2 separate regions of the Homo sapiens genome follow, and region 2 is linked to region 1. Evidence: fine-mapped expression QTL. Tissue or cell type: cerebellum. Region 1 holds a variant in brackets; the other region holds the start of a gene. All regions are shown on one strand. Distances are between the middles of the regions.

Region 1 (2,500 bases):
CCACCTCAGCCTCCCAAGTAGCTGGGATTACAGGCGTGCGCCACCACGCTCGGCTAATTTTTGTACTTTAGTAGAGACGGGGTTTTGCCATGTTGGCCAGGTTGGTCTCAAACTCCTGACCTCAGGTGAGGAGGCCTCCCAAAGTGCTGGGATGACAGGGGTGAGCCACCGTGCCCGGCCCGCCCAGAAATTATCTTACGCGACTGTCAAAGAGCTTATCCAACTATTATGATCAAAGAGGCATTTGGGGCCCTGGGCTCCGCTCAGCAACCAATCCCAACGTAACCACAAAGGAAGGGACAGCCGGTCCCCTCCCTGTCTGCCGCCGCCTCAGGTACCCCAGGAATAGCCTGGACATAGGAAACATGAAACTCCAGTCCCCAAGCTGTGCCTGCTGCGGAGCCTGCCACCCTCAGACCACTGGAGATCCACTGCCTCTTGCAAAAAATGTCATCACCCAGATCCTGGGTCCAACCACCCATCCCAGTCATTGTTCCCAAGGGTGAGGAGGCACCCGCCTGCCCCTCCTGCCACCTGGAATTCCAAGAACTGAGCAGGATTCCTGGCCCTGCCTGCTGAAATGCCACATGTGTCCCAAATGCCAGGACGCAGCCGGCACTTCTGTGAGGGCAAGAAGAGCAGGGAAGGAGGCCGGCTAATCTTCAGGCCCAGGGTCCGGGAGGGGAGAGGAGGGCCGCTGGGAGGCAGCCCTGCAGTCTTATCGATGGGCACTGGGGCAGGGTGACCCAGCCCATGACGCCAGCCTCCTGCCCTCCCAACAGCCCTCTCTAATCAGGGCAGCTCCCCCAGACCTAGGGGGTCCCTGACCCTGGCCAGACAGATAGAGGCAATGCAAGAACAGGGCAGAGACCCCTGACCCTCCAGTCCCACCCAGGCGGCTCCCAACTCTCAACTCCCGGAGCAGCACCCTCAAACTGCTGACGCACCAGGTTGCCCTGGCAGAACACACAGAGAGAGAGGAGGCTCTAGGGGGCCTGACTGTCCCTCAGCCATAGCTGTCCCAGTTGGTCACCCTAATAGACGAGCTCAGGCTAGACAGACTGACAAAGGAGGCGCTGAGCAGTCACCACCAACCCTCCAGAGGGTTCAGGGTGGCCCGGGGGCTCAGACAAACAAAGGCATTCCCACTAGAAAGTCATGTAGTCAGATGGTGAGGGCCCCGCAGGTCAGACAGCAGCTCTGAGGCAGACAGGGGAGGCTGGACCAAGGGACAGACAGAGGGGATACGGGGCAGTTAAACAGACAGATGGGGGAGGCTCATGGCTCAGGCAGATAGAGAAGCCCTGCACAGTTGGACAGATGGGGGAGGCACTGCACAGTCAGACAGATGGGGGAGGCACAGCACAGTCAGACGGGGGAGGCTCAGGCCATGGGGCAGAAAGACGGGGGATGCTGGATGGTGGGACAGGCAGGGGAGGCTCAGGAGTGACACCACAGAGGGG[C/A]CACTGGGTAGTCAGACAGACGGGGGAGGCTCAGGCCACGGAACAGCCAGAGGGGTGAAAACTCAGCTCATGGGGCAGACAAACAGGGGAGACTTAGGTCCCAGGCAGGCAGAGAGAGGGGGCTGGGTGGTGGGACTGATGGAGGAAGCTCAGGCCATGGGCACAGACAGACAGACAGGGGAGGTTCGGGCCAGGGGACAGACAGAGGGGTGAAAACTCAGCTCATAGGGCAGACAGATACATAGGGGAGGTTAAGGCCGTGGACAGACAGTGCAGGGAAGCTCGGGCCACGGGACAGACAGACCGAGGGGAGACTCCGATCCTGAGGCAGGCAGACGGCGGGTGGTGAGTCAGAGGGAGGAGGCGCCCGGGTCGCGGAGTCTCGGAGGGGCTGCCCGACAGGTGGCGGGGCCGGGACGCTTACCGACCAGGTGCCAGGCCTTGCGCGGGCCGTAGCGGGCGCAGCAGCTGGCGGCGCGGTCGGCCTCGTAGCCCACGAGCGGTGTGCACAGCCCGTCGGCCACCTGGCCCAGCAGCAGCAGCAGCCCCGCGCCGCGGGAGCTGTAGGCGCGCACCGAGTGCAGGTAGAGCAGCAGGTAGGTGAACCACATGGACGCGCACAGGTCGTTGAGGAAGTGGCCCACGGCGTAGCTCAGCCGCGCCACCAGGGACAGCGGCCGCGGGGACGGCGCCGCTCCGGCCGCTGGGGGTCCCGGGCCCATCGCGGCGCCGGGCCCGCGCCCCCCACCCCCGGGCTCCGCGGAGGGTACCCTGGCCAGGCCTTCTTGGGTGCCGTGGGGGCAGGCGCCGGGGACCCCCACCACGCGCCGGGCACCCCGCGTCCCGCTCTCTTACGGCCGCGCCCTCACCCACGTCCGCCGCGTCCGCCCCACGCTCGACTCTGCAGCCGCCGGGCCCCAGAGCCGGGCGACTGCGCCGGGCGGGGCAGGGCGGGGAGGTTCCGGTGCCTGAGCCAATCGGAGCCGCGCCCCGGGGAACCGCAGCCAATCGCCAAGGAGAGAGGAGAGGGGCGTGGC
Region 2 (2,609 bases), 140 kb after region 1:
CTTCCAGCCCTCCCCGGCCCCCCACCCCCACCCCCCCACTCCCCCGCTCTCCCACCCCACCACCATGCTCAGTCTGGAGCTGGCAACTTTATCTGTCCCCGGTGCTCCCAGAGCCCCTGATAAGATGAATGGTCGCGGTGTGGTTTTCTTTTGGTCAGCGAGTCCTGGGCTACTTTGTCTCTGACCAGCTGGGGTCAGAGGGCTGACAGCGGAAGTTGGGGGGCCCAAGAAAGGAACCCGGGCTGGGGCCTGGTGCCCTGCCTGGGTTCCTCCACCATGTCTCTTGCTGGCCAGGCCAGGACACCGGCTGCCCGCAAAGAAAGGGGCGAGGCCACTGGCTCTGGGGAAGGAACCGGGTCACCTACCAAGCGGTTCCAGATGGCCGCCGGGAGGGAAGCCACGAGTGTCTTTCAAGGCGGGGGGTGGGGGGGGGACTTGATGACTTCCACACTCTCTCTCTCTCCAGACATCTCCCCAACTCCCAGGCAGCACGCATCGCCCGCCCGCCCGCTTGCCCGCCTGCCAACCAAGGAAGCTTCGGGAGGCCTGGGGGGAGAAGGAGGACGGATGCCCGTGTGGGTGTCTACAGAGACGCTGCTGCTGGCTGCCTGGGAGGAGCAGAGGATTTTGTGAATCCGGAAACTTCCGATTTGGGAGCTTGTGACCTCGACTGAGAAGGAACTGTTCCCTTCCTCTGGGCTCTGCACACCGTCCCCACAGAAGGGAAGGCCCAGCTGCCGCCACCTACCCGGCTGGAGGTCCAGGAAGCAGCTAAAGGGGGCATGAGACAGCCGTGCCCCCCGCCCAGCCCGCAGCCCCACCAGTGTGTCCTGGGGGAAGGCTCGGGGAGAGGAAAAGGGGGCGACAGGGCACCCTGTGTGCACAGCCGGGGCGGTGGAGGCATCTTGAGATGTAACCCTTTTCCTCCCCTCATTTTAGCAGGGAGGTAAACTGAGGCCCAGGAAGGTGAGGAAAGGTCGCGCACCCGGACTCAGGTCTGGGGACTTACAGAAAGGGAGGTGACATCAGGAGGTGGGCACGCACGGCCTCAGAGACCCCCGCCTCCACCCAAGCAGCCGCCACTCACACGACGGGCAGCCCCTGGGAGCGGGTCAGGCAGAACGGGGATCCCCAGCGGCGCCCACGCCGAGTCGCCCCCGGCCCGGGAGCGGTGGGAGGTAGCCCCTCGCAGGCCTCCCGCTTCCCGGCGCGGCTTCAGCCCCGTCCTCCCCGCGGCTCCAGGGGACTGCCCCGCCCCAGGCTCCTGGAACCGGCGGCGCCCCCGCAGCGACCGTGCAGCCCCCGCCCCGGCCCCGCAGCCCCGCGACTCTCGGCGCTCGGACGAGCCCAGCGGGCCGCAGCCCCGGGAGGCCGGGCCGTTACCTGCCGCCGCCCCGCTCTCTGCCGCCCACGCCGCCTCCGAGGGCACGGCCCCCGCCTCAGCGCTCTCCGCCTCGTCCGGTACCTCCAGCTCCATGGCCGCGCGCGGACGGCGGCGGGGGCGCCCGAGGGGGACCCGAGCTGCGACCGCCGCCGCCGAACAACAAGCGCCGCCGGCCAAGGGAGGGCGCGCCGGGCCGGCGCGGGGCGGACGGGGCGGGGCCTGCGTGCGTGCGACGCCGCGGACGGCGCGCGGCCAATCGGGGCTCGGGGGCGGGGCCTGCTTGCGACCCGCAGCCAGGAGCGCCTCGAGTGCCCCCTCGCGCCCAGGGGTGGGAGTACAGAGCCAGGCTCGCCATTCCATCGTATTAGGTCAGTAAGATTGACAGGCACGATACGTATCAATAACATTGCTGTGCACAACACATACCAATAACATGGATCTACACAACACATGACAATAATATGGATCTATACAGCACGTGCCAATAATATGGATGTACACAGCACATGCCAATAACATGGATCTAAACAGCACATGCCAATAACAGGGACCTGCACAGCGCATGACAATAACATGGATCTGGCCGGGCGCGGTGACTCACGCCTATATTCCCGGCACTTTGGGAGGCCGAAGAGGGCGGATCACCTGAGGTCAGGAGTTCAAGACCATCCTGACCAACATGGTGAAATCCTGTCTCTACTAAAAATACAAAAAATAGCTGGGCGTGGTGGCACATGCCTGTAATCGCGGCTACTCGGGAGGCTGAGGCAGGAGAATCGCTGGAACCCAGGAGGGAGAGGTTGCAGTGAGCTGAGATCGCACCATTGCCCTCCAGCCTGGGCCACAGAGTGAGACTCTGTCCCAAAAAAAACCACACATGGACCTACACAGCACATGCCAATAACATGGAGTTACCCAATGCATGCCAATAACATGGATATACACAATACATGCCAATAACACGGATATGCACAATACATGCCAATAACATGGATATACACAATACATGCCAATAACATGAATCTATACTATATCATTGACATGGATCTACATAAAACATACAAATAGCATTGCTATATGCAATACATGCCAATCACATTGCTATACACAATGAATACCAATAACATTGATCTACACAATACATGTAACTAACATTGATACACACACTACATGTCAATAACATTGATATACACACTACATGCCAATAACATGGATATACACACTA

What was found. PIP is the estimated chance that this variant, and not a neighbour inherited with it, causes the effect.
Region 2: it holds the start of PIP5K1C, and the variant in region 1 is fine-mapped to the expression of PIP5K1C in cerebellum (GTEx, PIP 0.95).

What each region holds. Positions count from the first base shown.
Region 1 is chr19:3,555,219-3,557,718 of GRCh38, forward strand. It overlaps MFSD12 (major facilitator superfamily domain containing 12), which reads right to left and starts at 2,368. Exons shown (of 10, transcript NM_174983.5): 1 at 1,888-2,368. The coding sequence starts at 2,185. RefSeq lists silencers at 1,794-1,963, 2,144-2,213, 2,254-2,500. The variant C/A (reference allele first, on the strand shown) is at 1,464.
Region 2 is chr19:3,698,914-3,701,522 of GRCh38, forward strand. It overlaps PIP5K1C (phosphatidylinositol-4-phosphate 5-kinase type 1 gamma), which reads right to left and starts at 1,555. Exons shown (of 18, transcript NM_012398.3): 1 at 1,384-1,555. The coding sequence starts at 1,477. RefSeq lists an enhancer at 612-1,395 and silencers at 1,094-1,233, 1,314-1,803.